Linked DNA regions of Homo sapiens. The protein of the gene in region 1 interacts with the protein of each later gene in a pairwise test. Each region holds a gene or a part of one and is shown in the gene's direction. Other genes may lie near its edges.

Region 1 (3,500 bases):
TGTCATCCCAACATATTCCACTCAAAGCAGTACAAAGTTCCATTGTTTAAGTTTTTCAAAAGGCAGAGTTTGACTAGAATTTTTTTTTATCAGTTATAATACTATACTATTCTTTTTTTACTCTTACGGTTTTTTCCCAAAATAATCTACTTTTAAAAACCTATAATTAATTATTTCAGCCAGTATCTGCTGCATATCTTATTCCTTGCTAAACACTTACACGTCTTCACTGGGAAAGCTTGCAGTCTTACTGAGAGATTAAAAATAATCATAGTGCAAAGAGATTCACAGTTAAACGCTAAAAATAGTGGTAAAGACATAAATACTGGAGAAGCTTATAGAAAGATGACCTCAGAATGAGCAAGAGTGGTCATGGAAAGCGTTGTGGCAAAGACAGGGCAGAGAAGTGGCCACGTACTTAGTGCTGCCACACATACATTCAAAGCCCTGCTCCACACCTTGCCCTGGCCAGGTCCACCTTTGAGGTGATGACGACAGTTGCTGAGAAAAGAGAAAAGACCACTGGCTCACTACTTGTTTCTGCTGCTATAATAGAGAGGAGAAAATGATGAAATGCTCTTTTTACCTTCCTGTTTGAAGATTGCCTGGTCATAAAAGGGAGTCAGAGGTCTGACTTCTCCATTTCCATCCCTTAGGGGACTCTTTAACAACAAAAAGAATGTATTACAAGTATGTCAAGCTGATAACGCAAGGCTTTTCCTCCTGGAAGATTGCTGTAGGTGATGAGTTTCTAATCCCAAATATATTTGCATTTACCAGGCTTTTGTGAGTTTAAGAAGTTATCTATCATATCTTTTTTTTTTTTTCTATAGAAAAATGCTTGTTTCTATCAAGAATGACTCCTTTATAAACTGGGGAGTATCTTTAAGAGTGGTTTCAACCCTGACTGTATAGTATCATCTGTTGAGGAGCTTAAAAAAAATATGTAGGCCCAGCCCACACTAGACTGGCATTGGTACCTGGTATCAGTATTTTTTAAAAACTTCCCATAGGATTCTAATGTACAGCCAAGATTGAGGACCATTTGTCTGTCATCTGGGATTATGCTTAATAAATTAATACTGTTTTTTAAATTAATTAGATTTCACTTCTAAGTCATTATCAGTAAATTTACTCAGTATCTAACTGACAAGAATTTCTAGCATATATTTCTTGATTAGTGCATGTAAAATTCTAAAAGAATTTCTATAGTATTTTCCAGGCAATAAGACAACTAGTGCCCCAAATTTACCAAATGCATGAGTCTAAGCCTGTGCTATATATAAATATACTCAAAGCCAAGTTTACATCTGTGTACACAAGTGTGCATGCATATGTACAATTAAAGACTATAGTTGTAACAGTCATGAGCTTGTGTTTTGATTTTACTCCTATTCCTGTATTGTATTAAGTGTACTATCATGTTCTTGAGGCATATCTCCAGGAGATATGTTTATTTCTTTTCCAGGAAAAGTGGGACATATATAAGTAGGGTAAACGCTAGAGCTAGATACTCCTTTAATCTCTATTACGTCAGATCTCTGGCTCCCTTTTACAACCAGGCAATCTTCAATTATAGGTGGCTAATAGGGAAGAAAATCATCGGCAGAGCAACAGCTTCATGTAATTTCAGAGTAGAAAAATGAATTTTAATCTTCTGAAAGGTAATATTAGAATTAGCTGGATTGCTACACTTAGGAATCATAGGTTCCAAATAAATATCAGTACATACGGAAATCAGATAATGGGACAGATTATTTGAAATTAGGGCTGCCTAGAAATCTGGAATGTGAGATCACCCTCCTTCTGACCAAATATGCTTGAATAAACTTAATATTCCAAATTATGTGAGGGATTGCCTATTGTGCAAAAAAAAAAAAACGAAATCTGAATTTAAAAAAAATTACCACAGTCTAGTATTATTTTAGTCTCTTGGATGTTATAACGTTATCTGTTCCATCTGTTGTTAATATGAGACACTGTACAAACAAACAACTATATTGATTTAGAATCAGTATAGATCACCTAGCTTTTTGTCTCAATTTTCCTACTTTAATGCTCTTGGGGCTTTCGCTTTTGATTTTCAGTTTTTTCCTTAAAATAATTAATATTGTTGAAATTAGACTTTCTAAATTTAAATTTATCAGAATTTCCTATGTAAAATGAGTCTAGGCACCAAATGTTTAATGACTTTAAAAAAAATGTTTATGACTATAAAAGGAAAAACCCTGTATCAATTTCAAGCTTGTTTTATATCCAAAGTGCTAGTTATTTTGTGATGAGAATATATGCCCCAAGAACATTTTTGAAAGACATATAATTAGTAACTTTTTTATTTTTCAACTTACATAAAATAAACTTATTACTTGTTTCACAAGTTTGAGTTTTCAAAATAATATTTACTAAATGGCATATTTATATACATCCAGCTGAACTTTTTGCTTGAATTGGGTTTCTACATTTTAAAAAGTCTTTCAGTAATATACGATTTTTTTATGAATGTTTTTCATTTAATAATTATGAAATCAAGTAAAGCTAAAAGGAATCTTAAATTCCCAATATGATATCATTTTTTTCTTCTCAAAAGTAAGTAGTAATGAGGTTTTACTATAAACTGTTACAGCATTCTTTAAAACGACAATGACAATAACATTTTCATCATAATACAAATTTTTGCAGATGAGTTGAATATATCAATGAAAGAAAAAAATCTACTTTTTCTTGTTTCCTTTCACAGGCAATGATACCGTCTTTATCCAAGTTACTCTGCCCCATGGCCCAAGTTAGTATATTTGGTTTAAGACTCATAATTCTTGCTTTGGCTTTAAAAATCAAACCAAGTGTAACCTTTCCTGCTAAAACTCTTCTTGGGTCTGGCAGCATTGGTACCTTGCTTGCAACATCCTAGAAGTGAGGCCTTCACTTGTGCTATCTTTAGATCATAAGTGATTTGCTTAAATTTATATATTTCTCATGCTTTTTATAAAACCTTGTTTCTCTCTTAAAAGAACATATTAAATAAGTGGCTTCCACATTTAACCATTTCTTTTTTCCAACTATAGAGTTCTAAGTATATTTTAATGCTCAACTTTGAAAAAAAAAAAAAGGCAAGAGCATGCATGCGCATATGGGAATGCTGGCAGCTACATGCAGTTTCTAAATCACAAAATATACTTAGCCTGATGGCAGGATAGATTATAGACAACTGCTTTTGACTTTAGAAGAACTTTCTTATAATTGTAATTATTCAAAGTATAGCCTAAATACTGATAAACAAAATAAAGTTCCATTTTAATTGTAAGGTAAACTAACAAGTCACTAAATTCCATTATTTTAATTATTTAAGCTAATATTTTTTTGCTGTCCTTTCATACAATTTCAAAATATGTACAATGGAAAATACTAGTTACAAGCTGAATTAACTATATTCTTAAGAAAAAAGGTAGGTGATCAAAATGTTGATCATTTAAATAATATCAGTACACAAAGTACTCTTTTTA
Region 2 (3,500 bases), about 15 Mb from region 1:
AAAATGTAAGTTTTAAATTGTAAGAACATAAGCAGTTTCCATGTTATTATGTGGTCTAACTGAACTTGATCACAAAATAGCTTTATTGAGATTTAATTCACATATCATATGAATTTGATTTTAAGTGGAAGCATGATACTTGGCTTAGTATATTCCTTTATTTTTGGACATTCATTTTTAGTTTTTTTCAATGATTACTAATGCTGCCATATCTTTGTAATTAAAGCATTTCCCACATTTACTGTTATTTCCTTATGACAGATTCCCAGAAATGAAATTATTGCTTTATAGGATATGAATGTTGGTGGGACTCTTGATATATGTTTTCACAGTGCCTTCTGAAGAGTGATACCAATACGTATTCCCATGGGCTGTACCTGCAAGCACCCTATTTAATTCACCTTTGCTAGCCCTGGGTATTGGCCAGTGTTTTGTTTTGTTTTGTCTTTGAGACAGGGTCTGGCTCTGTTGCCCAGGCTGGAGTGCAGTGGCGGGATCTCAGCTCACTGCCATCTCAGCTCACTGCAACCTCCTTCTCCTGGGCTCAAGCCATCCTCCCACCTCAGCCTCCCGCTGGGACCAACTAATTTTTTTGTAGTTTTTATTGAGGCAGGTTTACACCATGTTTCCCAGGCTGGCCTCAAACTCCTGAGTTCAGACGATTCGCCCCCACTCAGCCTCCCAAAGTGCTGGGATTACAGGCATGAGCCACTGTGGGTAGCCTCGTTTTCTTAATTATTAGTGATGTTAACATTTATTAACTACTTTTATTTCTTCTGTTTCTTCTTTCGTAGATTATTTATTTGAGGTCTTAGTGTTTTCGTTATCTATTTTAATAGCCCTATGTACATTAAAAATATCAACTGCTTATCATGTGTTGTGATTTTTCCCCATTTACCTTTTAAGTTTGTTTTCAAGGAAGTTTTAAATATTTGTTATATAGATGATATAGAATCTGCTTATTCTTTCTTTTGTTTTCTTGTATGGCTTCAAAACTTAAAAGTTGTCTTTGTTTCAAAGAGGTGATGTTTTACTTGAAAGTGAAGCATCTGTCTGAATTTCTTTCCCTCTGTACTTTTTATTCATGTCAAGTAAATAGTTTTGCTGTAATATTTAGTTCTGATATGAGACAGATGACAATAGGCTAAATATTATCAGTCCCCCTGGGACCCCTTATAGGAATGCAGGCTGAGTCACAAGCTATTCTTAGGTATTTTTATCCCCCTTTGTGTGGGTGAATTGTCTTGTTCAGAGTTGTTGACTATTCTTCAAAAATTGGTTTGATTTAAATCTTCAATAGAATTTGAGTACTAACCACTTCAGTATTAGTTTGCTATTCCTGTCCTTTTATGTCTCCTGGCTTATTGGTTGATTTTTTTGAAGGCTAAACTCAATATTTATAAAAATCTGAGCTTATAATTTGTGTTTAAAAATCTAAACTGAGGTTGCTAAATTGCAGAACTAGAATTAAGAACTAAGTTTGTATAGAGAAGTTATCCTCTTTGAGGCTTTTAGGTCTTAATGCTTTGTATATTTGGGACCCTAAGCCTCTAGATAGAAATGATAACTTTTTTCTCAAATATTGATTAAAGTGAGAAAAACATGTCCTTTTATTAATAATTGGCACAACTCTAATTTGTTTCAGTAAAACAAATTAGATTAGTGATTAGTGATTGTGATTACAACTAAAAGTTGATTAGTGATTATAATTAAAATAATGTTGAAATAATTGTTGTAATAATCATAATTTATGGACACCTTCTATGTGCCAGATGTTTTCCAGACATGACATCTAAGCCTTAAAATAACCTGGCATTTAGGTACGATTACAGTAGTACTTTGCTTGTCTGCAAGGAATACATTCCAAAACCCCTAGTGGTTGCTTGAAACCATGGATGGTACAGAAACCTATATACACTATGTTTTTTCCTATATATACATACCTATGATAAAGTTTAATTTATAAATTAGGCACAGTAAGAGATTAATAATAATAAAATTGAACAATTATAACAATATACTGTTAACAATTTCACAGATATAAGACTTGTTCTTACTGTAGATCTTAGCAACCTCAGCATACAATTTTTTCCCTTCTATATTAAGTTGAGAACTTTCACCTTTTCACTTGAAGGAAGTGGCTTCTCCTTGGCATATCCGAATTGCCAGCCTCACTACTCTTGCACTTTGGGGTCATTATTAAGTAAAATAAGGGTTACTTGAACACAAGCACTGTGATACTGTGACAGTCGGTCTGATAACTGAGACAGCTACTAAGTGACTAATGGGCAGGCAGCATAGACACAGTGGATACACCCTGGACAAAGGGATGGTTTTCATCCTGGTTGGGACAGATGCGGGCAATGCAGGATTTTACCATGCTACTCAGGATGGTGCACAATTAAAAATTTATGAATTGTTTATTTCTGGAATTATCCATTTTGTATTTTGAGACCATGGTTGACCACAGGTAACTGAAACTTCAGAAAGTGAAACTGCAGATAAGGGGGTCTACTGTATCCACATTATTTGGTTAGGAAATTGAAGCTATGTCATGTGCAAGTCCACAAAGCTAGGAAGTACTTGCACTGGGATTCAAACTCAAGTTGCTGGGTTTGTCTTCTGTGCAGTTGAAAGAATGCTAACCTGTGCTTATTAAAGAATATTTTAGTGCCTACCATGTGAGTGACTGCTGGGCACTAGGTATATGAAGTTAAAGAGCCATTCAGGAGCTCACAGTCTAATAGAAGCGGGGCAGGCGTGAAAACAAAAGTAACAATACTAGCTGGTATGTAGTTTAATGAGATAATACAAGACAAAATGGGACTGTGGCAAAGGAAGCTATTATTAGTAGAAGTGTCACTCAGAAGGCAGGTAGTTCCACAGGTGCAAAGAGAGGAGGCATGGGAATAAGATCAAGTGGAGGTGGAGGTGGGGAGGTTGAAATACCTGGTAGGGTAGGCGGAAGATAGAGCCTAAAACACCTTGTATGTCACGTGAATAGATTTTTTAAAAACAGCTTTATTGAGATACATATTGTAAAATTCACCCTTTTAAAGTTTACAGTTCAGTGTTTTTTAGTATATTCACAGACTTGTGCAACCAGTATCACTATCTAATTTTAGAACATTTTCGTCGTTCTTAAAAGAACCTCCTATACCCAATGGCAGTCACTTTCCATCTCCCTCAACACCGCTAGCTCTAGGTAGCCACTAGTCTACTTTCTGTGTCTATGAAATTGCCTATCCTAGACATTTCATATAAATGGAATTATACAATATATGGTCTTTTGTGACTCACTTCTTTTACTTACCATAGTGTTTTCAAGATTCATCAATGTTATAGCATAGATCAGTACTTCATTCCTTTTTATGGCCAAATAATATTTTATGGATTATATGGATATACCACATTTTGTTTATTGTTTATTCATTCATCCATCTGTAGTTGATGGACATTTGCTTCCACTCGGTTGCTTCTACTTTTTGGCTATTGTGAAT
Region 3 (3,500 bases), about 200 Mb from region 1:
AAGCTTTTCCCTCTTTTGGTAAGAAGTAACCAAGTTCTGAAAGAAGCATATCATGCGGCTTTCCCAATTGCCAAGTTATGATGACACAAAGTCCAAAATGCGTGTAAAGGTTTTTGACCAAGTAGAAAAGCAGAGAACCCCAACCAGTATAATGTGTCAGAATGCTTTTTCTCTTCAATTGTAAAAGCACCACAACGTTCAACATCTGGAAACCAAGAAAATAATGAAAAGAACCTTTTTTCATGTGTATAATATTTTAAAACTTGGTTACATGTTATTTTTTGGTATTTCTAAAGTCAGAGACATTTTAGAAGTGAAATCCCTAGTAGGCTATTGTTTTACCAAGCACACTGAAGTTCCTCGAATACCGTTGAAGATGAGCTAGACATTTGTTCTGAGACGTGTCTGGACATCATGTGGTTGTGTTAGTCATCTTGTTGATACTTGTTGTTAATTTGGTAAGAATACATTGACTACATACTCTCCCTTACTACTTTTTATTAGCATTCATATTAATCTTATTTCAAATCAAGGTTACAGCTTCATGTCATTTGTAGAGTCAGATAATCCTAGAAAGGCTTGTAAGAAAGAAGTGCCAACATCCTTCCCCTAATCATGTTTCCTCCCCTGCAGAGTATCTACTTCAGCCTTAGTAGATTTCCTTGATCTTTGCCTCCAACTCTAAAGAGCATATTTGCTTGACGTCTGTATTTGTGTCTCCTACCCCTGTTTCATGTGATGTCTCTTCGCTTGACACTGAGAATAGGTAGGAAGTTCCTAGCTTTCTTTCACCCTCTGCCTTCTCAGTGCAAACGGATCCATGGCTGCCCAAAGTGATATATCCTTAATTTGGTTAGTTCAGTATTGATTGTTTATATTATGACTACATATTGCCATTTACAGCTGGACGAAGTGGTATAATAGGATTGTTTTCACTTTTCTGGATAACTTTTTGTTTTCCTGGGTTATTACAAGTCTTATTTGTTTTTGTTTGCTTGCTGCTTGCTCAGTTTTCTATATTTTGTCACTACAATTCAACCCCAAATTCTGAAGCAATTATCTAAATCTTTCAAGAAATTGTCCGTTTTCTTTTGAAGAAAATTAGTATTCCTATCATTTTATCTTGAATAAATCTCTCCCAGCGCCTCCAATCTGCTGCAGGCTTGTCTGTGCCTGAAATCTTCCTGTAACTCTCCTCACTCCCTCTTGTGTTGGAGCCTCACTTTTCTGGAACCTATGTCATTCTCTTGATTTGACTGTCTCACTTCGATGGAGCACATCCTTCACTAGTTGCCTGAGAAGTGCATGGCAGATGAAGTTTTCAGAATTTGTATGTACGAAAGTGCCTCGTTCTGCTCTTATCCTGAGTAGGAATTTGGACATCATTTTGCTCCGCGGTCTCTAAGTTTCCAGTGTTGTTGAAGTCTTAAGCCGTTCTGATTCTCTTTTATTGATACGTAACATTTTTAGAGCCTTTGTGTGTGACTATGTTTTCCTCCATGAAACCTGAAGGTTTTTGTTTCTTTTTTTTCTTCTTTCTTTCTTTTGTTTTTTTTTGAGACACAGCGTCTTGCTCTGTTGCTCAGGCTGTAGTGCGGTGGCGCTGTCATAGCTCACTGCAGCTGCAATCTCCTGGGCTTGAGTGATGCTCCTGCCTCGGCCTCCCAAGTACCTGGGACTACAGGCATGCACCGCCACACCTGGATAATTTTAAAAACTTTTTGTAGACATGAGCTCTCTATGTTGCCCAGGCTGATCTTGAACTCCTGGCCTCAAGTGATTCTCCTGCCTCAGACTCCCGAAGTGCTGGGAGTGAAGGCTTTGCATCTGGCCTCAGAGGCTTTTCTTTCTGTGAAATTCAGAACTCCCAGAACAGTGATGTCCCTTGGAGACTGTTTTCATCCATCGTCTTGCCTACTCTTTGGTCCTGTTTATTTGCAACTCATGTTCTTCAACGCTGGGCATTTTTTTGATTTATTGCTTTGATTTCTTCCTATTTGCTTTCTCTCTCTCTCTCTAGAATTCTACTCTTGGACTTTCTGGATTGGCACTCATAATTTTCTTAAGGTTTCTTTTTCCCCCCTCTAAAATTTTTGTTTTTGTTTTTATCTTTTAAATTGTAAATTGACAAATTATACTTGTACATATTTAGGGGGTACAAAGTGATGTTACGATTTATGGATACAATAAATAATAAAATCAAGTTAACATAATTCATCACTTCAAATACTTTAAGTTTTTTGTGGTGAAAGCATATGAGATTACTGTCAGCACTTTTGAAATCGACATTATTATTTACTATATTCACCGTGCTGTACAATATATCTCATAAAAGAAAACCACATTCCTCCTGTCTAATTGATGTTTTGTACCCTTTGGTTTTTCATTTTCTTTCTGGAAGTTATTCTCAAGTTTGTCTTCCAGCCCTTCTACCAAGGTTTTTCTCATTTCTAAGAGCTTTTTCTTGTTCCCTCTATTCCTATTTTATAACCTATTTTTTGTTTCATGAATGTGGTATCTCCTGTTAACTGTTGGAAGATATTGATGAGGTTTTATTTTTCCCTGTTTTCTTTTTCCTTAAGTCACTATTGAGGCTGCTCTGGTTTGTTGTGGGTTTTTGGCTTTTGTCAGCCTTTTCTGGGCTATGCAGTGATGTTCTTGTGCCTGCTCGTGAGTCAGAGGGCCTCTGAGCCTGTGTCTGTGGCTGACTGTGGCTTTCACTGCAGAGGCACCTGGCTGGGCCATTTCCTTACAGCACCCTTGTCAGCTTCTTTGGGTTTCTTCAGATTCCCCAGAGAAATATCTTGTAGCCCTTTGCCTGGCTGAGTGGCCAAGTGAGGAGAGAGGCCTGGGAGCACAGCAGTAACCATAAAAGAGCTTACTTCCCTCTTTTCAGAATTGTTTCCCTCCTCTGTAACTGGTGTCCCCAGTCCAAAGATTCTACTTCCCTTTGCAGACAGAAAAGCGATACCTTTTTGCCAGGATAGGAGAGGGACTGTGCAGGTTGGCTCTGTGTGGCTGTGCAGAGTTGTGGGGTGCATCTTAGGGATCTTCGTGCCTTTTAAACCTATCAGCCAACTCTGTTTTTAATTCAGGTCTCCTGGCTTCCAGTCATATTGCCAGTTGGCCTTCCCCATTGCCGATACAGGATTCAGCCCTTTTAGGTCTGTTTCCAGTTTCTAGCCTCCAGTATTTTAATGTTCTTATCTCTATTCTTATTCTTTGCTTTCGTGATTTGTATCTTAAAAAAAGAAAAAATCGTTTACTATCATTTTAGTGGTGCTTCACGAAGTAGTGTAAATGTATTGATCTGACAACGGCTCGTGCTGGAGACACTGTTCCAGGAAGTGGGACACAGTAAGGAAAATGCAAGTGTGTTCTCCTGCACTTTCACGGAGGTCACGTTTTGGTAAGCGGTGTCAGGCAGTCAGCAGACCAGCAGATATGCAGTATGTCCAATGTGGACAAGAAGAAAGGAGGAAAATAAAGTATCGAGGGGA

What was found.
Region 2: the proteins of SOS1 (region 1) and ITSN2 interact in a two-hybrid assay, tested with the Homo sapiens proteins (2 studies listed by BioGRID and IntAct).
Region 3: the proteins of SOS1 (region 1) and HDLBP interact in a two-hybrid assay, tested with the Homo sapiens proteins (one large-scale study listed by BioGRID and IntAct).

What each region holds. Positions count from the first base shown.
Region 1 is NC_000002.12:38,988,552-38,992,051, reverse strand, and holds part of SOS1 (son of sevenless homolog 1), read left to right. Parts: intron 1-2,737; coding exon 2,738-2,782; intron 2,783-3,500.
Region 2 is NC_000002.12:24,350,537-24,354,036, reverse strand, and holds part of ITSN2 (intersectin-2), read left to right. Parts: intron 1-3,500.
Region 3 is NC_000002.12:241,309,173-241,312,672, reverse strand, and holds part of HDLBP (vigilin), read left to right. Parts: intron 1-3,500. UniProt on the Homo sapiens protein: Appears to play a role in cell sterol metabolism. It may function to protect cells from over-accumulation of cholesterol.